Homo sapiens: one gene and its partner. The protein of the gene in region 2 purifies or fractionates together with the protein of the main gene of each other region. This does not show direct contact. Each region holds a gene or a part of one and is shown on either strand. Other genes may lie near its edges. The genes, in order: TIMM13 and LLGL1.

What was found.
Region 1: the proteins of LLGL1 (region 2) and TIMM13 purify together in Homo sapiens (co-immunoprecipitation; 2 studies listed by BioGRID and IntAct, with this or other methods). This does not show direct contact.

Annotation. Positions count from the first base shown.
Region 1 is NC_000019.10:2,417,428-2,432,482, forward strand, and holds TIMM13 (mitochondrial import inner membrane translocase subunit Tim13), read right to left. Parts: upstream 10,160-15,055; 5' UTR 10,107-10,159; coding exon 9,987-10,106; intron 9,898-9,986; coding exon 9,829-9,897; intron 9,620-9,828; coding exon 9,521-9,619; 3' UTR 8,662-9,520; coding exon of another isoform or gene 8,500-8,661; 3' UTR 8,198-8,499; downstream 1-8,197. Other genes in the region: TMPRSS9 (transmembrane protease serine 9), read left to right, coding at 575-711, 4,427-4,820, 6,662-6,830, 7,575-7,840, 7,930-8,066, 8,500-8,661; LMNB2 (lamin-B2), read right to left, coding at 13,484-13,525, 14,121-14,231, 14,356-14,475, 14,989-15,055. UniProt on the Homo sapiens protein: Mitochondrial intermembrane chaperone that participates in the import and insertion of some multi-pass transmembrane proteins into the mitochondrial inner membrane.
Region 2 is NC_000017.11:18,233,129-18,242,634, reverse strand, and holds part of LLGL1 (lethal(2) giant larvae protein homolog 1), read right to left. Parts: intron 8,858-9,506; coding exon 8,699-8,857; intron 8,623-8,698; coding exon 8,460-8,622; intron 8,363-8,459; coding exon 8,227-8,362; intron 7,987-8,226; coding exon 7,932-7,986; intron 7,797-7,931; coding exon 7,642-7,796; intron 7,547-7,641; coding exon 7,323-7,546; intron 7,166-7,322; coding exon 7,098-7,165; intron 6,029-7,097; coding exon 5,875-6,028; intron 5,801-5,874; coding exon 5,696-5,800; intron 5,155-5,695; coding exon 4,862-5,154; intron 4,569-4,861; coding exon 4,421-4,568; intron 4,180-4,420; coding exon 4,026-4,179; intron 2,058-4,025; coding exon 1,762-2,057; intron 1,185-1,761; coding exon 920-1,184; intron 751-919; coding exon 636-750; intron 470-635; coding exon 357-469; intron 188-356; coding exon of another isoform or gene 128-187; coding exon 7-127; intron 1-6. UniProt on the Homo sapiens protein: Cortical cytoskeleton protein found in a complex involved in maintaining cell polarity and epithelial integrity. Involved in the regulation of mitotic spindle orientation, proliferation, differentiation and tissue organization of neuroepithelial cells.

The DNA of each region.
Region 1 (15,055 bases), on a different chromosome or scaffold from region 2:
TGCACTCCAGCCTGGGTGACAGAGCGAGACTCCCATCTCAAAAAAAAAAAAAAAAATAGAAAAATAAAAAATTAGCCGAGTATGGTGGCACATGCCTGTAGTCCCAGCTACTTAGGAGGCTGAGGCAGGAGAATCACTTGAGCCTGGGAGTTCAAGGCCGCAGTGAGCCATGATCATGCCACTGCACTCCAGCCTGGGCAACAGAGCAAGACCCTGTCTCAAAAAACAAAAAAAGCAAATGCTCACTGGTGCTTGCTTGCGCTAGTCTATCCCGAGACCCCTCCCACTCCAACAGTTAATGCTTCCCTTGACCTCAGAATGGCCTCCTACACCTTACCCAGGTGCTAGGGCGGCAGCCCCATGGGGACAGTGGGGAGACTCTTGCGCTCTGAGCGGGCCATCAGGCCCACCTCCTCCTCACTCTGTGGCTTTGTGAGATTCCTGCAACTCTGTGAGCCCTGGTTTCTTCGTCTGTGGGGTGGGGATGCTGCATCTCGGGGCTGTTATCGGAGCGGAACTGGAGCTGCTCTGATGATCACTGTGCACGTGGCCTTTCTGGCTCTTTCCCTGGTAGCCACCAAGCCCGAGCTCCTGCAGAAGGCGTCCGTGGGCATCATAGACCAGAAAACCTGTAGTGTGCTCTACAACTTCTCCCTCACAGACCGCATGATCTGCGCAGGCTTCCTGGAAGGCAAAGTCGACTCCTGCCAGGTAAGCATTCAAAGGGGGAAAGCGGGCAATATTTCCATGAAATGCCCACAGCCGTTCACCCAGCAGTTCTTTGTGTGCAGACCTAGATTTTTTTCCTTTCTTTCCTTCCCCCCCTCCTTCCCTCCTTGTCCTTCCCTCCTTTTCCTTTCCTCCTTTCCTTCCCTCCCTTTCCCTCCCTCCCTCCCTCCCTCCCTTTCCTTCCCTCCCTTTCCCTCCCTCCCTCCCTTCCCTTCCCTCCCTCCCTTTCCTTCCCTCCCTGGCCTTTCCTTCCATTCCTTCCCTCCCTCCCTTTCCTTCCCTCCCTCCCCTTCCCTCCCTCCCTTTCCTTCCCTCCCTCCCCTTCCCTCCCTACCTTTCCTTCCCTCCCTCCCTCCCTTTCCTTCCCTCTCCTCCCTCCCTTCCCTTCCCTCCCTCCCTTTCCTTCCCTCCCTGGCCTTTCCTTCCATTCCTTCCCTCCCTCCCTTTCCTTCCCTCCCTCCGTTTCCTTCCCTCCCTCCCTCCCTTTCCTTCCCTTCCCTCCCTACCTTTCCTTTCCTTCCCTCCCTCCCTTTCCTTCCCTCCCTCCCCTTCCCTCCCTACCTTTCCTTTCCTTCCCTCCCTCCCTTTCCTTCCCTCCCTCCCTTTCCTTCCCTCCCTCCCCTTCCCTCCCTACCTTTCCTTTCCTTCCCTCCCTCCCTTTCCTTCCCTCCCTCCGTTTCCTTCCCTCCCTCCCTCCCTTTCCTTCCCTTCCCTCCCTACCTTTCCTTTCCTTCCCTCCCTCCCTTTCCTTCCCTCCCTTCCCTTCCCTCCCTACCTTTCCTTTCCTTCCCTCCCTCCCTTTCCTTCCCTCCCTTCCCTTCCCTCCCTACCTTTCCTTTCCTTCCCTCCCTCCCTTTCCTTCCCCTCCCGCCCTCTCCTTCCCTTCCCTCCCACCCTCTCCTTCCCTTCCCTCCCGCCCTCTCCTTCCCTTCCCTCCCACCGTCTCCTTCCCTCCCTCCCTTTCCTTCTCTTCCCTCCCTCCCTTTCCTTCCCTTCCCTCCCTACCTTTCCTTCCTTTCCTTTCCTTCTCTCTCTCTCTCTGTCTTTCTCTCTGTTTCTTTCTTTCTGACGGAGTCTGGCTCTGTCGCCCAGGCTGGAGTGCAGTGGTGCGATCTTGGCTCACTGCAACCTCCGCCTCCCAGGTTCAAGCGAGTCTCCTGCCTCAGCCTCCCGAGTAGCTGGGATTATAGGCGCCCGCCACCATGCCCAGCTAATTTTTGTATTTTTAGTAGAGACGGGGTTTCACTATGTTGGCCAGGATGGTCTCGATCTCCTGATGTCGTGATCTGCCCACCTGGGCCTCCCAAAGTGCTAGGATTACAGGCGTGAGCCACTGTACCCAGCCTAGATTTCTTTTTCTTTTTCCTTTTTTTTTTTTGAGATGGAGTCTTACTCTGTCGCCCAGGCTGGAGTGTAGTGGCGTGATCTCGGCTCACTGCAACCTCTGCCTCCTGGGTTCAAGTGATTCTCCTGCCTCAGCCTCTGGAGTAGCTGGGACTACAGGCATGTGCCTCCACGTCCAGCTAATTTTTGTATTTTTAGTAGAGACGTGGTTTCACCATGTTGGCCAGGCTGGTCTCGAACTCCTGACCTCAGGTGATCCGCCCGCCTCAGCCTCCCAAACTGCTAGGATGGCAGGCCTGAGCCACTGCACCCGGCCATAGCCACCATGCCCAGATTTCTGAAGGGCTCAACCGTGCACACACAGACAGGTTAATTTTCAGGCTGGGTGCAGTGCCTCATGCCTGTAATTCCAGTGCTTCAGGAGGCTGAGGTAGGATCAGTCGAGGCCAGGATTGCAAGACCAGTCTGGACAACATAGTGAGACCCCGTCTCTACAAAAATTTAAAAAAAAAATTTGTCAGGCAGAGTGGCAGGTGCCTGTGGTCCCAGCTCCTTGGGCAGCTGAACTGGGAGGATCTCTTGAGGCCAGGTGTCTAGGCTGCAGTAAACTGTGATCACACAGCTGCACTCCATCCTGGGCGACACAGCAAGACCCTATCTCAAAAAACGAAGGGCGGGTGCAGTGGCATGCATTTTGGGAGGCCGAGGCAGGCAGATCACCTGAGGTAGGCAGTTCAAGACTGGCCTGGCCAACATGGCGAAACCCTGTCTCTACTAAAAAACTACAAGAATTTAGCCAGGCATGGTGGCGGGTGCTGGTAATTCTAGCTACTCCGGAGGCTGAGGCAGGAGAATTGCTTGAGCCCAGGAGGCGGAGGTCACAGTGAGCCGAGATCATGTCACTGCACTCCAGCCCGGGCAACAGAGTGAGACTCCACCTCAAAAAAAAAAAAAAAAAAATGGCATCAGATTTCAATAGTAACTCTCAAAGTTAGATGCCATTATTACTAATCAATACAAAATATCAATGACAGTGTAAATGCCCATTCACACACAGTAGTTAAAAGGAAGGTGGTAAATAACCTGCAATGGGAACCTACCCAGCCCAAGTTCTTCAATCAGACTTCTGAGTTCAAATCCTGCTTCAACTACTGTGTGACCCCAGGCAAGTGCCTTAACCTCTCTGGGACTCTGATCCCCATATGTAAAGTGGGAAGCATAGCAATGCCTGTCTTCTAGGAGTGTTGTGAGATCGGTGTCTTGCATAGTCTTTTCTTCCTATATATTCATTATATTTGTTCTTTATATCTGACAATAAAAATAGAATAATAGGTATTTATAGTATCTATTATTATACTATTTATTCTCTATATAAATGGGCGATTCACAATAGTTAGCTTTTTATCTTGAAAAGAATGTTGAGGCCAGGCCAGGTGGCTCACATCTGTAATCCCAGCACTTTAGGAGGCCAAGGCGGGTGGATCATCTGAGGTCAGGAGTTGGAGACCAGCCTGGCCGACGTGGTGAAGCCCCCATCTCTACTAAAAATACAAAAATTAGCCGGGCGTTGTGGCTTATGCCTGTAGTTCCAGCTACTCGGGAGGCTGAGGCAGGAGAATCACTTGAACCCAGGAGGTGGAGGTTGCAGTGAGCCGAGATCATCCCACTGCACTCTGGCCTGGGCAACAAGAGCGAGACTCTGCCTCAAGAAAAGAAATAAGCTTGGCAGCTAGTGGTCAGGGGCTACTTCTAGATGGTGGGACTATTCATGGCTGTTATTGTTGTTATTTATTTATTTTTTTTTTTGAGAGGGAGTCTTGTTCCGTTGCCCAGGCTGGAGTGCAGTGGTGCGATCTCAGCTCACTGCAAGCTCCGCCTCCCGGGTTCACGCCATTCTCCTGCCTCAGCCTCCCTAGTAGGTGGAACTACAGGCGCCCACCACCACGCCCAGCTAATTTTTGTATTTTTAGTAGAGACGGGGTTTCACCATGTTGGTCAGGCTGGCCTGGAACTCCTGACTTCATCATCTGCCTGCCTCAGCCTCCTAAAGTGCTGGGATTACAGGCGTGAGCCACCACGCCTGGCCTTATTGTTATTATTTTTAGAGTTTTTCTGCATTGTTTTACCTCCTCAAAACAAAAGCAAGAATGATGGAAACTCAGAGAGGAGAAGTGACTCACTCCAGGTCACACAGCCAGGCATGGGGCTGCAGTCAGGTCTCCAGACCCGCGCTGTGCCCTCTGCCCCCCGCCCTCGATGGCTCCCACCCACTGTAGGAACGCAGGAGGGTATGGCAGTGCTGGGAAGAGAGGGTCCCTGGAGGACCAACCAGTGCTCTTTCCTTCCTTTCTAGGGTGACTCTGGGGGCCCCCTGGCCTGCGAGGAGGCCCCTGGCGTGTTTTATCTGGCAGGGATCGTGAGCTGGGGTATTGGCTGCGCTCAGGTTAAGAAGCCGGGCGTGTACACGCGCATCACCAGGCTAAAGGGCTGGATCCTGGAGATCATGTCCTCCCAGCCCCTTCCCATGTCTCCCCCCTCGACCACAAGGATGCTGGCCACCACCAGCCCCAGGACGACAGCTGGCCTCACAGTCCCGGGGGCCACACCCAGCAGACCCACCCCTGGGGCTGCCAGCAGGGTGACGGGCCAACCTGCCAACTCAACCTTATCTGCCGTGAGCACCACTGCTAGGGGACAGACGCCATTTCCAGACGCCCCGGAGGCCACCACACACACCCAGCTACCAGGTACCGGGAGAGACGGAGGGATCCCTGGGAGTGGAGGGTCCCATGTTAATCAGCCTGGGCTGCCTAACAAGACATAACGTCGTCCACTTTGGGAGGCCGAGGCGGGCGGATCAAGAGGTCAGGAGATCGAGACCATCCTGGCGAACACGGTGAAACCTTGTCTCTACTAAAAAAATACAAAAAATTAGCCAGGCGTGGTGGTGGGCGCCTGTAGTCCCAACTACGCGGGAGGCTAAGGCAGGAGAATGGCATGAAGCCGGGAGGCGGAGCTTGCAGTGAGCTGCATGCCACTGCACTCCAGCCTGGCAACAAGCGAAACTCCGTCTCAAAAAAGAAAAAGACATAACGGCCTCTCTGGCTGGGCGCGGTGGCTCATGCCTGTAATCCCAGCACTTTGGGAGGCCAAGGCGGGTGGATCGCCAGAGGTCAGGAGTTCCAGACCAGCCTGGCCAACATGGTGAAACCCCATCTCTACAAAAAAATAAATAAAAAAAGCCAGGCATGGTGACAGGTGCCTGTAATCCCAGCTACTTGGGAGGCTGAGGCAGGAGAATCGCTTGAACCCAGGAGGTGGAGGTTGCAGTGAGCCGAGATCGTGCCATTGCACTCCAGCCTGGGCAACAGAGTGAGACTCCAGCTAGATAATAGTAATAAAAATAAAAAGCCAGGCGTGATGGTGCATGCCTGTGGTTCCAGCTACTGGGGAGGCTGAGACAGGAGAATCATTTGAGCTCAGGAAGCAGAGGCTGCAGTGAGCCGAGATCATGCCATTATACTCCAGCCTGGGTGACACAGCCTGTCTCTAAAAAAATTAAAAAAAAAAAAAAAAATGAAAGCAGGGACTTTGATGGTTCACAGCTGTGCCATGTCCTTGGGTGCGTGTTTCTTGCTAACTTGGCAGCTGCCCTCATGTAGGTCTGTCCCTGCAGCCTGGGGGCTCTCACTTTCTCAGTCTCAGCTGATTTTGACTTTTTCAATAGCTATGGCGTGGGATCTCTTTGGGCCCAAAAGAGGTGGAGAAGGCCCCCCTCAAAATACAGGCGGGTTCTGTGTGGAGGTAGCTGGTGTTCCCAAGGACAGCGGCTGCGGCTGCTGTCAGATTATCCAAGGCCACCTGGTCTTATGTCAGGGCCAGACGGTGCCAAGGCTGGTGGGGAACTGGCATTTCCCCTTACTGGCCTTGGTAGCTGCTGCGGGTTGGATGGCGGTTGGTGGGGGGTGGGGGGCGGGGGGGACCCAGGGAAGCCAGCTGGGTGGTGATAGAGGGCGGCGGGGGGGCTTGCCCCTGAGGAGGAAAACACGCCTCTGGAGACAGCAGGTGGGTATGGGACCCCCTCCATGGGTGGTAACAGGGTCCCTGAAACCCCCTGGAAACCACCCACGTGTTCTTTCCACAGCTGGGTTCTGAGGAAGGCCTTTGCGCTTGGCACCGTCTGGGGAGGGCTTGGAGGTGATCAGGGATCCAGGCAGAGGGCACCAAGGCAGGGCTGGGGCCTCTGGGGCGGGGCCCTGGTGTGTGCAAAGGCCTTGGGGTGGGAGGGAACTCCTGGAAGACGGAGATGTGGGAGGCTGCCATGAGAGGGGCCTCCGGCAGGGGAAACGTATGGTCCCAAAACTGAAGTCATAGGAAACAAATGCATTTCCAATGTTATTTGAGAAAAGCCCAAAGACCAAGCAGCAGGCCCAGTGTCCTTTCCTGCTGAGTTTTCCTGGGATAGGTCCCCCATCACAACCTACTCCCTGGGGCTCCCAGGGGGATTCGTGGAGAGGCGGCGCCCAGGGGGGCCTTCGTGGAGGAGGTGCCCTGGGTCCGCCTGCCCACGCGCCTGGCTCCCCCGCAGACTGTGGCCTGGCGCCGGCCGCGCTCACCAGGATTGTGGGCGGCAGCGCAGCGGGCCGTGGGGAGTGGCCGTGGCAGGTGAGCCTGTGGCTGCGGCGCCGGGAACACCGTTGCGGGGCCGTGCTGGTGGCAGAGAGGTGGCTGCTGTCGGCGGCGCACTGCTTCGACGTGTGAGTTCCAAACGCTCCAAATGCCCCTACATGTCTCTGTAGCTCACCCGGAACCGAACTGTTGCCCGAAAACGCACCCTGACCCCCTCCTTTGCCGGGAGTGCCCTCCCCAACCCCGGCTCCCACTGCCCCAGGCCACTCCTCCCACCCCCCATCTCCCCATCCTCGCTCCCTGCAGCCCTCCCCTGACCACCCACCCCCTAGCCTGACCACACGGGGCTGGGGCTGCGAAGGCCGAGTCCTACCCCGCGGTCCCCACCTAACCCGGAAGCTGCGGCCCCCCCCCTCCAGCTCCAGGCTAAGCCCACGGGAACATTGGGGTCACTTCTTTCCCCAGCCCTCGCCCCTGGGACTTGGCTCCAGCCCCCCAAAGCCCACCCAGTAGAAAGCTGCCCTCCCCAGGGCCCAAGCCCTGGCAGTCGAGGGGTCCGGTTTTCCAGAGGGGACACCCAGCTCTGGGCTCTGCAGGGCTGGAGGTCAGAAGGGGAGGGCAGGCGGGGGGCGGGACTCGCACGGCCACTAGACCCCTTTTCAGAGCGCTCATATTAGGTGGTGACGGCTGCAGTTCCCGGTGCCGCCTCGGTGCCTGATGGGGGAGACTGAGCCCATTCCCAGACCGACAGCCAGAGACCAAGAGGCCAATAACCCTGCCCAGGGTGCCAGCCGGCCGCTGGGGGACACCACAGGGGCGGGGGCCGGGGGCGTGGGGGCTCGGGCCGACGCCTGTCCTCGCGCGCCCCGCAGCTACGGGGACCCCAAGCAGTGGGCGGCCTTCCTAGGCACGCCGTTCCTGAGCGGCGCGGAGGGGCAGCTGGAGCGCGTGGCGCGCATCTACAAGCACCCGTTCTACAATCTCTACACGCTCGACTACGACGTGGCGCTGCTGGAGCTGGCGGGGCCGGTGCGTCGCAGCCGCCTGGTGCGTCCCATCTGCCTGCCCGAGCCCGCGCCGCGACCCCCGGACGGCACGCGCTGCGTCATCACCGGCTGGGGCTCGGTGCGCGAAGGAGGTAGGCGCGCCCGGGGCCGCGGTGGTGCGGGGCTCGGGGGGCGGCCGGACGCGGTCCCCACCCGCCCCGTCTCGCTCGCCCGCCCGCAGGCTCCATGGCGCGGCAGCTGCAGAAGGCGGCCGTGCGCCTCCTCAGCGAGCAGACCTGCCGCCGCTTCTACCCAGTGCAGATCAGCAGCCGCATGCTGTGTGCCGGCTTCCCGCAGGGTGGCGTGGACAGCTGCTCGGTGAGCCCCGCCCCGGCCCAGGGGACCAGGTCCCGCCCAGCCGCCGGGGAGGGCGGGTTCCCGCTGCCACGAAGCCCACCATCCGGGAGCCACCCTCCGGTGCAGGCTTCTCCAGCGGATCAAGCAGGGAGCCTTTTTGGCTCTGGAGGAATTTCCACTCCACAGCCGTTTATTGGGCAACCCACCGCATCCCATCCCCGGGCCTCGGCGGCAGAGCAGGCAGAGGCTGCAGTGGGAGGCACCGTTCCACTCCGGGACCACGTGGCGGGTGTCCATAAATGTCTGCCACCTTTGCATTGAGCCCATTTTCCAGATAGTGAAAATGCGGCTCCCAGGGGAAGTCACTAGGGTCACTCCTAGAGGGGCCAATGACCCAAGGGCTGCTGTAGGGGAGGTACCGGCCTCTGAACCCCCTTTCTTCTCTCCCCAACAGGGTGACGCTGGGGGACCCCTGGCCTGCAGGGAGCCCTCTGGACGGTGGGTGCTAACTGGGGTCACTAGCTGGGGCTATGGCTGTGGCCGGCCCCACTTCCCAGGTGTCTATACCCGGGTGGCAGCTGTGAGAGGCTGGATAGGACAGCACATCCAGGAGTGACCACCACGTGACTGCCCAGGCCGAGACTCTACGTGAAAGCAACAGGAGCAGCAGGCCACCCAACACCCCACCCCACCGTACCCTACCCAAGGACGGGTGTGGGGGGGCTGTGGGTCATGGGGATGCATTTTGGTACCACCCTTTGTTCCAATAAACACAGCCCCTCCACCCTAGCTCACTGGCTCAGCACCTCAGTGTCACAGCGAGGACCACCTGCCTGGTGCTCCACCAGGACCCGGGGTGGAACGAAGCAGGGTCAAAGCAAGCCCTGACAAGGGGAAGGCTGTCCCCCTTAGCCTTTGGGGCAGGGGTGGCAGCAGCAACACATTCCTCGTGACTCAGCAGCCCGGTGGCACTAAGGGGAAAGATGGACTTCTCCCAACCCAGGGGAGGCTGAGACCCTCCGAGCTGGGGTTCCAGGGACACGCGTCACCTCTTCCCAGAGACCCCTCAGGAGGGAAATAAAGAGGTTTCTCTCCGTCCTCCACCAATTTATTTGCCCATCCGCAGGAGGTGACAGCTCCTGTGGTGTCTGACCACCCCCAACTCCGAAGTCCAGACAAGCTGTCCGCCCAGAATATGAGGCTGACTTGGGCACACTAGGGGAATACCCCAAAGGCCTGAAGGAGGTGCCACTGGGCTGCCAGCACTTCAGGAAGGCACAGGGCCCCACACCCCCGAGATCCAAGCTGCACTGGCTGGCAGGGGGCAGGGCGGGGGGTGGCGAGGACACAGTCCCGTGTGTCCCAGCACCGGTGCCACCCTCCTAAGCCCCGGGCAGGCAGTACGTACATGCGGACCCCGCCTCTCAAAGCACGTTTATGGAAATGAACAGGGTGGGGTGGCCCGCGCTCGCCGGTCACATGTTGGCTCGTTCCCGCTGCAGCCGCGAGTTGTAGGCGCGAGACACGGTGTTCCAGGCGTCCATGTAGCGGTCCATGCACATGGCGATGCACTTCTGCGGGAGCGGAGGGGCGCACGGCTCAGCTCGGGACTTCGCGGCCCCGGGGACCGCCCTGACCCCGGCTCCAGGACGCCCGGGCTGCAGACTACGCACGTGCAGTGACCACTCCGTCGCACCTCCCCGTTAGTCTGCGCACGCGCAGACACCTCCCCCCTCGAATCTAGGCCCTCGCGACCCTTGCCCCGAACCTCCGCGGGTCTCACCTGCTCGGAGTTGTCCAGGGAGCCCCCAGGTTTCCCTATACACTTCCGGAAACACTTGTCCGTCATCCTCTGTGGAGACACGCGAGGCTTTAGCCGCGACGTCGGCCCCCAGGGGTGGCCCTGTCGCCCCCAGCGCCCGTCCCCGGCCAGCCCCGCACCTGCAGCAGCTCCTGCGCGTTGGCCACGGCGATCTGCACTTTCACCTGCTCCATTATGAGCCCTGGGTCCAGCTTCCCGCTGCCGGAGCCCCCGAAATCGGAGCCGAAGCCGCCCTCCATGGCTCCGCAAAGTCAACCGGACCGAGGCCGCGTGCGCCGACTCGTAACTAACTGCGCCGGAAGCGGGCCGCCCGGGGCACCACGGGAAACGGAGTCCGCGCGGACGGGGACGGAGGACTACAACTCCCACACGACCGCGCGCGCCCGGGCCATTCAAGGTCGCGCGGGGGGCCCTCCGCTCATGCGGAGGCCTGGACCTGCCGTTACCTACACGAGCTACCCGTGGTTGCGACTCCGCGGGAAGAGGGAGGCCCTGACTTGGCCGGGGAGTAGGGGGGCTACTACGTGCGGCCGAGGCCGATCACTTTGTACTCACGCTCTGCCTCCAGCTCGTCCCGAAGGGCCTGCCGCGCATGCGCACGAGGCACCCGGCGCGTCTATACAGCGTGTTGCCGCCGGGGCGGAGCCCGGTCGCATCACGTGACGAAGAGTCAGCTTGTGCAACAGCGTCGGAGGCTCACTAGAAAAAAAAGGGCAGGGTCCCATGCATCGCCTGGGTCCTGTTTACACTAGCTACACTAGCCAGTGACCTTTTTCCTTGGGGGTGGAGGGATCTTTCTTAGACATCCGCTTCATTAGGGCAGAGGCCCCGGCTCGAGCTTCCCCTCAGGAATAAACTCAGAGGCAGAACCTAAAATCAAAATGTTTATTGGAGTGTTGTACAAAAAAGTTTCCAGTCATAAAATGTATATTACAAATCATTGGAAAAAAAAAAGAACACATTAGGCATGCATCTTCTTAAAAACCGAATCTCTGAAATGAAAGTCCATGCCAGCCCCAGCTGCAGCCCAGCTCCGTTTTTGCAGGTTGTGCTGTGACGCTCGCTGGACGCAGGGCTTGGAAGAGGCTGCAGGCGGCGACGCCCCAGGACTGAGGAGTCCCTCAGATCTTTAACAAAGAACTGCCGCGTGCAGGCTTCAGACCAACCCCAGCCAAAGCCGCTGGCATGAGGACAGGTGCATGATCGGATTCTGGGTCAGCCCGCAGGCCTCCCGGCTCCTGGGCTCAGCGGGGCAGGCTTCAGCGTTAACCTGGCGCTGTGCACCCCAGAACCCGCGTTGGTCCAGCAGGCGTGGGCCTCCCCCCAGGGCTGGGTGGCGTCTGATGCTTCGCAGGGAGGGCGCTAGGCTTCGAGTCACACGGCACGGGCTTACACAGAGGGATGGTTTCGCATCGTTCTAAGCGGCACACAGCTAAGCGTATTTGGGGACAAATGCAAATTGTTTCCCAGGCCATAAATAACTTTTAAAAATTTGATTTTCTTAGTGTTTCCAAAGACTCAATTCTCAATGAACCTCCAATTACCCACAGGCTGCCCAGTCCACGCTTCTCCCCACCCCCTTCAGCTAAGGGCACCCGCAGTCCTAGGACCACCCCCAGCTCCACCCAAGGCAAATGTAGGGTGGGGGGTTCTGTGGGCCTGGGGCGTGCTGTTTTCAGGACAGGACTGGGCAGCGTCTGGACATGAGGACCTGCGGGTTTTGGGGGGGACTTTGTCCCTGAGCCCAGCCTGCAAGGCTGTCGGCAAATCACAGACCAACTCCAGGATACAGCTTTGCTCCTCCAGAGCCAAAATACATAGGATGTGGCTGAGACCACTGCAGACTCCCCATAGGACAAGATCACCAAGACCCACCCCCAGAACCCTCGCTAGCACGAAGCCCAGCCAGTCGGGTCCGGGTGATTCCTGCTATGAAGGTGGGAAAGAGGACACAGTCTGTCGCCAGCATTCCCACTTCCAGCGGCTGGCAGAGGGTATCCCCGGGGCAGGCAAAGCTCCCTACCAGCCGCCTGACTGGGAGCACAGCGGCGTAGCCTCCAGGAGGAAATGCTTTGGTAAGATGCGCCCCCCTCTATCTACATGGGACCGGGACTTCTGAGAGCAAGGACAGCGAGCAGGGGCTACGTGGAGCAGCGGGTGTTTCTGCTTTGTCGGCCGCTGGCTCCTTCCCGGCCTGGGGCTGGGGCCCCCCATTCCTTCCTGCCACAGGCAGGTCCCCAGGGAGGCGGGATGCAGTCACAGGGGAGCGGTGCCGCCCCCGCCCTGCAGTGAACGCCATGGCCCGGAGACGGCGCGTGCCCATGGCTCAGTTTTGGTGTCTTTAAGACTTGAGCTGCACTTTCTGAAGGAGGCTCTGCCGTCGGAGGGTGCCCCAGCCCCACGCCACCCCGGGGAGGAGGGTCAGCCTGTCCTCAAGGCCCTGGCGTGAGCTCCTGACCTGTGTACTGACCAATGTAAAAAAATAAATATCCATTAAAAAAATAACTTCTGTGTATCTATGAGGGAGGGTGTAAACGGTGAGCTATTGCCGAAGGGGGGTGCCAGGCATTGGGAAGCTGGACTGAGGGGCTTGGGTGCGTCGTGATAGGAGTCAGGTGGCCTTGGCCTGTCTGAGAAACATGGTTTCAGCGAGAAAATCACAGATAAAAGCACAGTATGGATAGACGCATGTGTATATATAGGCACAGGGCAGACGGAGCTGGAACACGGGAGGGGCTCCACAGCGCTCTCCTCCAGAGGGTCAACATGGTGGCGTTCCCTGCAGACAGCTGTTCTGAAACTCACAGCTTCTGCCTCCAAGGCAACCAGATGTGTCCCCTCCACATCTCCCCTCCCTGCTTATTGTTGTGACAGGTCTTACGACGGGACTGTCCTCATTCTTCCTTCCCCAGGTCTTCCCCTCCCCTGCCCTGTTGGCCTTGCACAGTCAGGAACTGAACTGCGGGAAAACTCCCCCAAATAAAGTCAACGGTCCGAGAAACCCGGCCGGTGCGCTGCCAGAACGGGAATCTGGAAGCCCAGGCAGCGGAGTGAAAACCCGCCCTGGGGGCCACGCCATCCCCATGCTGGCCCACACCCGCTGCGTGGCTGCCTGAGGAGTTCCCGCTGTCCGAAGCTGGGCAGCCAGAATGCAGGCTTGGCCCCGGGCCCCACCAGGTCGACGCCTGGATTCTGAATTTGGTTTTGTAGAAAGCCTTAAAAAAACCCACCACCACTGAATTCCTACGCAGTTTCCGCGCTCCGTCCGCAGCAGGGCCGTCTCCTGTCCCCTCGCTAGCCTCGCCGGCCCTCCTCCCTCCAAGCCCAAGCATCTTCTAAACCTCCGGGTCCTGGCCCTGGGCTTCCAATTTGACCAAATGGTGAGATGAGGAGTGGGGTGGGATTGAAAAGTCTCCGGGGCAGCGGCGAAGTGGCAGCGAAGTGAGGCTGGAGGAGACCCGCCAGGAGGGAGGGCTGGGGGAGACCCACCCACACGTTCTGGCAGTTCGCTTAGAAATTCTCTAGAAATGTATCAAGAACTAAAGAAAGCCAATGATATAAAAATAGTTTTCAGTGGCTCTGGGTAAAGAAAGGTGTGTGGATGAGGAGTGTGGGTTCACATCACGTAGCAGCCTCTTGAGGTGGTCCTCGGGTCCCCCTGCAGGAAGGAAGGAAGGAAGGTCGGCCATGATCAGGGCCAGCCTGGAGGCAGCCGGCAGGTAGATGGCTGCCCCCACCTCCCCACCAGGGAGGGGCTGAGCAACAACAGTGTCTATTTCTAGAGCCTTCCATTCCACTTCCATGTCCCCATGAGCCCGCCTGTGAGCTACACATTCTGTTCTGGGTTCCAAAACAGTCACAGGAACTTGCGACGCACGCGTTTAATGCAGCTGTGGTTTCTGCACTCATCTTCTCCCCAGAAGCCAGTATTGAAGGGACCTGTGTCTTCGACTGAGGAAGCCGGTTGACCAGAGAGCATTTGGGGAGCTGTTCAACACCCACCTCTCAGGGGACCCCCTGGCCAGCTACCCTGAGGTCTGTGATGTCGCAAATTCACACGATGGGCACGACCCAGGAGGCAAGAACAGGTCTCTGCCGTGCTGGTAACAGCCAAGGCTGGCTTCACCCTGAGCCACGGCAGCCAGATGGAGCTCCCGTCGGGGATGCGGCCAGCACGCATGTGTATGTGTGTGCACGAGCTCACTCTGCCCCAGAGGCTGCCCCCCAGCCGCAAGTGGGCACAGGGGTCCTACCTGTTGGTGGAAAAGATCCTCCTCGCCAAACTCGGCTTCCTCCTCCTCTTCCTCCCCATTCTCATTCTCACGCATCACCGAGGACTTCTTCACAGTCCTCATGGCCACTTCCTGTGCGGGACAGGACACGGCGGCATGTCCCGGGATCGGGCCCAGAGCTGCTGTGGCGGCCCCGAGGGTGCCCAGACCCTGCCCAGGACTCCAGCCGAGCACCCCCCAAGCCACACACACCCACCTCGCCATCCGCGTTAACCAGGACGGTGCGGAAGCTCTCGCCCGTGCCCCAGCTGCTCTGGCCCTTCCACACCAGCGTCGAGGGGGGGCTGTGGGCCACCCCCGCACCAGCTGCCCACACCTGAGGACCCAATAACAATGGCCCCATCAGGGTCACCTCTGGTTCCAGGGACGTGGGCCAGCCAGTGGCCCCTACCACAAAGCCCCCTTCAATGCCCTGGGCGTTCAGTCCTTCCAGCCCGACGCAGGCTTATCCAGGGTGATGGTCCCCAGGATACACAAGAAGAGACCAGGGTTCACAGAGGCCAAGGGCTCTTGGCAAGCAGGGGCTGAACTGGGATCTGACACCCACCAGGCTCCATGGCCCATGCGCCTGACTGTTAACACTTCACGGGGACGCCTGCCAGCCCCAGCAGCCTGGACTCAGACCCAGGGCACACCACTCAGGCTCCAGGGAGGCCCAGTGGGGTGACACCAGCACATGGAGGTTCTATGACTGCGGCAGCCGCTCTGAGACGGTGCCTGGTGCCACCATCATCCCCACCCACCCCCGCCAAGTCCTGTGCCTCCAGTCCCCTGACCCCACCTCACACCCCATCCGTGGCCACCCTCGCCCTCCTGCCCCACCACCTACCGTGACCATCTGGCCGGCGCGCAGGATGTACTTGGGCGTGAACTTGTAGGCGATCTCCTCCCCCTCC
Region 2 (9,506 bases):
CCTCACCCCAGGAAATCCTTCACATCTTCCACTGTGACGTCCCCTGTCGTGTCCAGCGTGGTGTCAGCACTGGTGGCTGAGTCGATGGACATGGGTGAGAGTGCAGCCTCGGGTGGCTCCGGGGTGTCTACAGGGAGCAAGTCATCAGCCCCTACCAGGACCCTTAGCACCCTCTGCACCTGGGGGCCTAGGGACACAGACCCATAAGGCAGCCCATGGTGAGGGGTGGCACCAGTGAGCACACAACCACCCATCTCCTACAGAAGCCTGCCCGATCCCTGAGCTATGTGAGTCCCGACTCCCTCCCCCAGGGCACCGTGGGGCCAGGGTCTGGACCCCTTTCATGCCCCCCTCACCAGGTCCCATGCTGTGGGCTGGATCAGGGCTTCCATCAAGGCTCTGTGGGGCCAGCAGGATGCTTGGGGTCCCGTTAGCCTGGCTCAGCTTGGGTGACTCTCGGATCCTGTAACTGCAGAGATGGGGCCATGATGGGGACCATAGGTGGATGACTTGAGGCTGGCACGCTAGATCCTTGCCCTCCCACTCCTGAGCCCAGGGAAGGCAGATCTCGGGGGTGGGATGAGACCTGGCCCTGGGCACAGGTCCCCCAGGCTAGGAGCTGCCCCTCCACACACCTGGCCTGGGTGGCATCGCGGGGCCAGTTAATGTCCAGAGAGCAGAGCGGCTCTGTGATGTTCCGGGCACTTAGGGAGAAGCGTTCAAATTCTGATGGGGATATCAGGTAAAAGCCTGGGTGGGCAGAAGAATGAGGAGTGCAGTTAGAAGATACCACCAACCACAGCTCCTCCGTGGCCTGGGCCTGTGCCCACCTGGAGTGCCCTTCCTGCTCCCAAGCAGTACTGGTCCCACTCAGTTCGCTCGCCTGAGGAAGGCCTCCTCGGCCTCTGCCCCGCCTCACCCTGGCCATGGCGCGTAAAGACGCACGAAGCGATGCCGCTGATGTCCTCCTTCCGGATGCAGGAATAGTGCACCTGGGGCCGCAGGCCAGGCACCGAGAAGACGTGGACGTCACCCAGGTTGGTGAGGCAGGCCAGGCAGGTCTCAGCATAGTCCTCGCAGGCCACACTGGCAAACGTGGCCAGTGCCACCTTGCGCACACGACAGCCCTCATGGGCCGTCAGCTTGAACTTGGTCTTCGCGCTCACCTTGGGCAGTGTGAACACCTGACAGCAGGTGGCTGGTGAGCACAAAGCCTGGCCCTGTCCTCGTCCCCAGGGCCCCTCACCCTCGTGGCTGCTGACCCAACAGCCCCCACCACAAAGCCCAGCTGCATGCTACGTGGCCTCCCGTGCCTGTACACCTGGCTGCCCCACTAAACTCCAGACTTCACACTGTACTCCAGAAACCTCCCAGGCCCTCTCTCGATCTGTGACAAAATCAATCACAGAGTTATGCCAAGGTTATGCAGCTGGTATCCCCATCAAACCTCGAGTTCTTTCGAGGCAGAGCCCCTGGGGACTGGGCTCAGGGGTCTGGGCCCAGTACAGGAGCCTTGTGTGGCACAGTGAGATAGGACTAGATTCCTGCCCTCCCAGGGGAACTCAGCAGGCTGAGGGGGCATCAGGGTTCTTGGGTAGGAGTTCTCTGCTGGCTGGGAGTGTTTTCTGGGGTGCAAGGGAATTAGGGTCCCAACAGTGGGGGATACAGGCAGGAAGGGTTTCTTGAGGGTCCAATGGTGTCCATGAGGTTGGGGCCTGGAGGGGAGTCCCCCAGAGTCCCCCACAGCCCACAGTGGCTCACCTTGAACTGCTCCTCAGATGCGATGAGCACAGCGTGACCACCCTGCATGTCAGGTGCCTGCGCCAGGTCCCGTGAGGCCTCGTAGGGCTCGGGCAGTGGGCGGCCACGCCCGTCCAACACGGCAATGGCCACCACAGGCGCCCGGTGCATCAGCTGCACCTCCTTGCCCAGCACGGCCTCCACCGCTTGCTCAGGCCGCTTCTCACCACCCACTGCTGCTGCCGGCACCTCCAGTGCATAGGCGAACACAGAGCCTGAGTTGGTGCCAGCCCACATGGTGGGCCCGTGGTGGGCCCCTGCAGAAAACAAGCGCGTAGGAGGGTGCTCCCTGTGGGCCAGGCATCTCCCCTGGGGTCTTCCCACAGACTGCAGGTCCCTCCCTGCCTCTCTTGTAGCCCTGCTTCCTAACTATGACACCCTGGGACTCAGGGCTGATTCCCTCCTGCCCCATGCCTCCCTGGTGACCTCCAGCCTCGAGGCCTGAGACCCCAGCTCTATGCTGCTGACTGCAGTCGGAGCCCAGGATGCAGCCCTCCTGCAGAGGCCCGAACAGCTGTAGCGCATCTGCACAGAATGCTGATGGGCACCCAAACCAGACCTCCAGCCCCATCCCACTGCACCCTCAGCCCCCATCTCAGTAAACGCAGCTCCATCCTAGCATCACTCAGGCCCCAAGCCCCACAAGACCCCGACTCCTCTCTCCACCCCTGCGTCCCCTTGCTAGTCCTGTCGACAGGTGTGCCTTGTCTTAGCCCTGCTTCACCCCCACTGTCTTCAGTGTGCTCCCTACGTGGCAGCCAGAGGAAGCCGCCAAGCCTGGGGACACCTAGGACGACCATCCATCGACCCTGCTCTGCCTGTGTGAACTGAACCTCTGGGTGACAAGCTTTAGTGGAGAATCAGAGCCCAGCCCAGCAGAAGCAAGAGCAGACTCGGCACCTGCTCCCTGATGACCCGATGGATCCTGAGGCATTAAGTGTCTGCACAACTCAAAACATGCCCAACAGGAACCCCAGCCGGCCATGAACATGAACCCATCGGCCTTCTCGGGCCAGTGGAACAAGTTAAAAACCCCAGGCTCTCCTCTTCTAGGTCTTTGTAGTCAAAAAAAACAAAAAGTCAAAGAACCCCCCACCCCCAGCTGCACCCGCCACATCCAGACAGTGAGAAAATCCACTGCACAAAGACCCTCGACAAATAAATGGCATCAGAAAGCTGAGCTCGTAGACCAAGCAGATGACACTCAGGAATTCACATTGGTTCTACAGGGCATGATGTGAGCAGTGGCTGTCAGTGACATCTGTCAGGAACATGCTGAAGTACTTGTATCTGGGTTTTCATTTAAAATACCCCGGCAAAAAAAACAGCAAAGAATGTGGAGGAGGGGGGCAGAATCCGCAGGGGCACATGGCTGGTGGCAGGCATGTGAGGTATGTGGGACAACTTTGCACCTCTCTATTTTTGTGTATGTTTGAAACTCTCCCATTGTACAAGTTCAAAATCAATCAGTGACTCAATCAACAAATCCAGGACCTTCCCAGGGCTCCCAGGCCACTGAGAATCAAAGCCAGGTCCTCAGCCTCTGGCCAGCAGCAGTATCTCCCTGAACCACACACCTCGACCCTCACCTGCTCCACTCCAGCCAAGTGGCTGGGCAGCTGCCCACACACATGCCCGGCTCGGGGCCTGGGCACTGGCTGGTGCCCCTCACCGTCATCCACCAGGCCTCAACCTCCCTTCTCCTGGCTCAGATCTGAGAGGCCCACCCAGCTCACTCAAAAATCCTTTACCATCCAGCTCCCCCAGAGAGACTGGGGGTGACCCAGCAGTCCCCCTGGGAGAGCTGGATGGTAAGCTTTTTTTCTGAGAAGGTCTCACTCTGTTGCACAGGCTGGAGTGCAGTGGTACGATCTCGGCTCACTGCAACCTCCGCCTCCCACGTTCAAGCAATTCTCCTGCCTCAGCCTCCCAAGTAGCTGGGATTACAGGCGCCCGCCACCACACCTGGCTAATTTTTGTATTTTTAGTAGAGACGAGGTTTCACCATGTTGGCCTGGCGGGTCTCAAACTCCTGACCTCAGGTGATCCGCCCACCTCGGCCTCCCAAAGTGCTGGGATCACTCACAGGCTTGAGCCACCGTGCCCAGCCACCTCCTGGAAGGTGCAGTCCCACCACCTCCCTTGCCACCACCCATCTCCCAGGTGGCCAATTGAGGCCAGCCCCCCCAACCCTTGCCCTGTCCCTGCCCCTGCCCCTGCCTTACCATCTCGAAGGAATGTGTCGGCAAAGTATAGGCAACGCACGACACCCGACAAGGAGTCATCGGCAGAGCGGGGCTCAATGCGGCGCTGCACGGGCGTCATCTCCACGTCGTGGGGGCAGGCCTGCTCAGCCAGCTGTGCATTGGCTTCCTGCAACTGCCGGGCGGGGGCTCCTGAACACTGTCTCCCTAGCACCCCAGTGGCTTGCATCCTGCTTTGCGCCCTACGTTCTGTTACCATTCCTCTACCACCCAGCTTAGTTCACCCATCCCTCTGGAGGGCCCAGGGGCTGCCGAGGGAGGAGCACTGAGCTAAGCAGGCCCCAGGGGTCCCAGGCCAGAGCCAGGCCAAGGCACAGGACACAGGCACAGCTCCTGTGCAGCCCACCCCAGCTCACCTTGCTGCTGGCATTAGCAGCCCGCTTCTTGCCAGAGACACGACTCTTGCGAATGCGCCGGAAAGACTGGCGCAGTGACTTCTTGAGAGACTTCACCCGGGAGAGCGGACCCTCCATGGCCAGGGAGTCATTGGGGTGAAGAGTGCACCTGGGGGAAGACAGGGTCCAGTCGTGCTATAGAGCAGCCTCCTGGGGCAGCCACCACACTCCTGCTGGCCTGTGGAGGCACCCAGGTCAGGGAGTCACAGCCCCTCTGGCGCAGTCCTATGGACCCAGCTGCAGGTGGTACTGAGAATGTCCTTCTTGGAGCTGCCAGGTTATTTCTTATAGGGCAATGGAGGTTAGTGGCCTTTGCCACACCAAACACTAGAGGTGGAAACGGAAGCCCAGACCCCATCTCGCTGGGGGCTCCAACTGCCCAGCCGGCCCCACCCCACACACCTGGCCAGCACAGGGCTCTTGCGCTGGTAGTCGAAGAGGCCAAAGCCATGACTGGTGCCAAAAGCCACGAGGCTCCACTCGGTGTGGAGTGTGACAGCGGTTACAGCAGCTGGCGGCAGGCACTGCACCAGGACACGGGGCTGGAAGCCAGCAGGCCAGGGCAGCGGCCCCGTGCGTGGGCTCAGCCGCTCGTGGCCCTTCCATGTGAAGCCCTCGCGGTCCTGGAGGAGGTCTATGATGGCCACGCTGACCGCCTGCTCCACCGGCACATCACTAAGCTCCAGTACCAGCACCTGAGCCCACAGCCAGGCAGGGGGAGCATCAGCGCAGGGGAGGGGCCGCCCTGGGCCCCACTCAGCCTGGAGCCTCTGAAGCAGCCCCAGCCACCACCAAGGTGGTTCTAGGACTGTCTTCAGTTCATCAGCTAAACAAGCACTCACTGAATGCCTACTGTATACCAAGGCCCTGGCTGAGCACAAGGAACACAGTGGTGACCAAGACACACTAGTCCCTGCCCTCTGAGGGCAAAGTGTCCACCCTTACCCTGAGCCTCTATCTCCCATTTAGCAATAAGGACACATTGAGCACCTCCTGTATGTCATGTGAGTGCCGGAGCACAGCACTGACATGAGTTCCCTCCTCTCAACACTGTGGTTCCCCCAGCGACAGGCCCACTTCCCATCTGTCCTCACCCCAGCCAGCCCCACCCAGAGCCCTATTCCCACCTTGGCTTTTGCCTGTGCCAGTCCATCTCCCTTTCCACCAGACCCTCCAGCTCATCTCTTCCAGAAAGCCCTCCCTGACATCTCCAACCCAGGGGACACCCAGCCCTACCTGGCCTGCAGTGCCAGCCACCACCATCTGGGCTGTATACTTGCAGAGAGCAACCTTCTGCACGCCAAGCCGGGGATCGTCACTGTAGGGATCGAAGCAGCCCACCTAGAGGGATGGGAAGGAGTAATGAGTCCAGGCGGGGTCAGGACCAGCTCATCAGGGCCAGGGGAGGGGCCCACCTTGCGGAAGGGTGGCCAGTCGTCCTCGGCAGCCTGGGCCAGGCTGTCAGCGTGCTCACAGTCTGTCTGGAAGAGGCCAGCTGTGCTCAGCTTATAGAGCGGCCGCAGCGCCACACCCGAGGCATCCCAGAACCTCACGGTGCCGTCCTCATGGCTGCAGGGAGGGCAGATGTCAGGGCTACCCGAGTTCCTGGGAGGCCTGCACGCCCCTCCATTCACTCATCTGATAACCACTCACTAAGCACCTACTGCACGTGCCAAACACTGACCGGAATCCTACTTTTACAAAAAACAATAGGCACCTACTGTAGACAGCACAGGTACACTGTGCACCTGTTATAGGCCAGGCCACATGCACCATATGCACCTGGAGCCTTTAAACCAAACAAGGTGGAAATGACCACCCTGATTAACAGGAGGTGGCAAAGGGGGACATGTAGAGAACAGAGGACTTTGGGGGTTCTGCCTGCACTGGAGCAGCCATCAGAGGTGATCAAGAGTAAGGCAGTCACAGAACAGAGCATGGGGCATCCCGGGGGAGGAGCTGCATGGGGCCCAAGGCAGCCACGTAGGTGGAGGAGCAGGAAGACTACAGAGGCCGGGAGAAAGCAGGGAGGGGGCAGGGGAAGGAGTAGACAAATCTAGGGCGCAGCCTTGGGACACAGCTGCAGAGTCCAAGCAGGGCCCCAGGCGGTGGTGAAAGCCCAGAGCCAGGGCGTGAGAGGTGTGTGACTGTGGGGGTGGTTGAGACTCATTCCAGCAGCCCTGAAAGCCACGGCAAGCTCTTCAGCAGGGAAGGGCACACCAGAGTCAGAGGCCTGAGGGTCCCAGCACAGGCGGGAGTGGGGGCAGGGCAGGAAGTTGAGACCTGAGTCACTGGGCACGTCAGCGCCCGCCAGGCCCACGCTGGGCTCTCTGGCACCTTCCCTGGGCAGCTCAGCGTGGGCCAGCCCAGATTTTCCAGTCCCAGGGCAGGCAGGCTGGGCGGGTGGAGCCCTGGGGTTTGGTAGAGCTCAGTTCCAGGCCAAAAGGCAGATCAGGGCAGCACCTTGAACCAAGGTCCAGGGAGGTTTCATTCCAAACCACCTTGGGCAAGGAGGAACTACCTGGTCCCACCAGGGGCCAGGCCTGAGTCTCCTGGCACCTCTGCACCCACCAGGCCCAGGATGGGCTCTCCCCCAACAGCAAGGGGCCCACTCACCCACATAAGCACGCACACCTACCCCGTCAGCAGCAGCCCTCGCTGTGACGGCTCCTGGGCCAGGTTTCGGCCCCCAGTGATGGGCCAGCTCTGGGAGGGGGTGGCAGAGATGTATGCACAAGGTTAGGACGAACATCTTCTCCCTCTCACCCCGAGTATGGCACATTCTGACCTCCGGGCTTAGAACTGAAACTCTCCCCCTCCTCAAGACTCCACCCTGTAAGACCCCCCTGATCGCCGCACACACCAAGGCACTGGAGACAGGCTGGGGGCTCTGCTGCTCGCCAGCGCTCACAATGCGGGCCCACAGCTTGGCGGGGACACTGGCCACGTGGGCCGAGCAAGTGATTGCAGAGGAGTGCAGCGGGGCCAGGTATGGGGCAGGCACAGCTGGCCAGCCAGGAGTCTGCAGGTCCAGCACCACCAGCTCCTCTTCCAGCAGCACAGCCAGGGCCTGGGGGTCATCAAATTCTGTGGGACGGAGGGAGTATGGGGTGAGCACAGCCATAGGTGGCAGAGGGCACCAGGTGGGGCTGGGAAAGGGTAGGGTACGGCAGGGCACGCACCATCCTCGGGCCGTGTGCTGTGCACTGTGAAGAAGTCGATGATGCGGGAAGTGAAGTCCAGCGTCACCAATGTCTCGGCTCGAAGCACACTTACACAGTGGCGGTCACCATAGCTGGCACGGGGCATGCCACCGCTGAAGATGATAAAGTGGCCCCTATGTGCAGAGGGAGGTGTGCGAGCCATGAACCACTTGGGTCCAGAGCACATACTGCACAACCTAGGGAGAGCCCACCCTTCCAGCCCCCTAGCCAGACCCAACTCACATCGGACACCCACTCCCTCGACCTACCCAGATTCACAGTTCCGCCACAGAATCTTGTTAATGGCCTTGCAGGGAAAGGGGCCTGAGGGGTGGGACAGCGTCAGACCAGACTCACTGGTGGTTCTTAGCAATTCTGCCATTCCTGCTCTGCCCTCCACTGCTCTCTACCTTACAGCTGCCTCCTGCCTCCCCGGGAAGTCGGCGGGAGACACACTGCCCCCAGACCACCCCCTCGGGGAAGTCCCTCCTCAGCCAGTTTGGCTTGGCTCAGTGGTGCCCCCTCCCATCACCACCCTCTGGCTAAGGTGTCCCCAGCACTCACCGTAAGGTGTGGTGGCTACCGTGGGCTGCAGCGTTGGGAAGCTGCCGGCATCCACAGACCAGACAGCATAGCTGCCATCGCTGTGTGAGCTGACCACAGTGCTGCTATCACGCCCCCAGCATAGGCTCTCCAGCTGCTGCGGGCAGGCAGGGGCAGGCAGGCAGGCAGGCATGAGCCATGGTGGGCATGCACAAGGGGCCCAGGCTGAGGGGACACAGGCCTCACCTACATACCTGGTTCCCCAGGAAGATGTGGTCCACACACTGCGAGGCCTGGTTCCAGATGACCAGCAGGCCCCGGCTGTAGCCAATGAGAATCTTTGTGGGGTCCCGCAGGTGTCCCTGGAGTGACTCCACGGGGCCCAGTGCCTTCCCACAGCGGTAGTCGTCTGGCACGCTGTGGAGGAAGGCAGGTGAGCCAGCAGAACTTCCCGGGCACACAGTGGGTGCTGGGAAGCCCACCGGCCTCTTACCTGCGCAGAACCTCGCCTGGGGCAAGCGTCTGCCCCTCGAGCAGGGTCAGGGTGGTAACATCCAGGAAGAAGACACTGCTGCCCTCAGTGCCCAGGGCTGCTATGTCGCTGGCAGCCACCAGCAGGACCACTGTGACTCGGGTAAGGCTGAGCGGAGCACTGCAGGGAACAAGGGGAAGGGAGTGAGGGTACAAGCCCATCCACCTGCTCAGGTGGGGTGTGAGGGGCTGGGCCACTGCTGATAACTCATCACTGGCCCCACAGCACTCACCAGGGCCTACTTACAGAGCCACCCCAGGAAGACATGCATCATCATCAGCCCGCTCAATTATTCATCAGGATGTCAGCAGGGAGATGGATAAAAATAGGGTCCCTAGGTCTTGCAGACTGGGCTCCCAGCTCCTCCCACCCACCAGGAGAGGACAGCAGGAACCAGGGCACTGCCCAAGCCAGGACCAGGAGCTCCCCGCTGAGCCCCTCCTAGGAATCCCGCTGCCAGCGCTCAGACATCTCCTGACTTCGCAGGAGGGCCCCAGATACCCCCATCTGCAGAAGCTGGGAGGCATCAGGAATCCATCCCTGGGTTGGTACTCCCCTTTTCCAGCTATTTCAGGCAGGGCTGGGGAGAGAGATGCCCCACACTCTCACTCAGCTGGGGCATGCTGCCAGCGCCTTACCAAGCACAGCCCATGGGACCCTCCTTGCCCTCAACCCTGCCTATGCACAGAAAGGCCTGTCTCCCACCCACAACTGAAGAGGCCAGGGGACCCTTCCTGTTACTAACTGGCTTAGGCCCTGCCCCAAACCC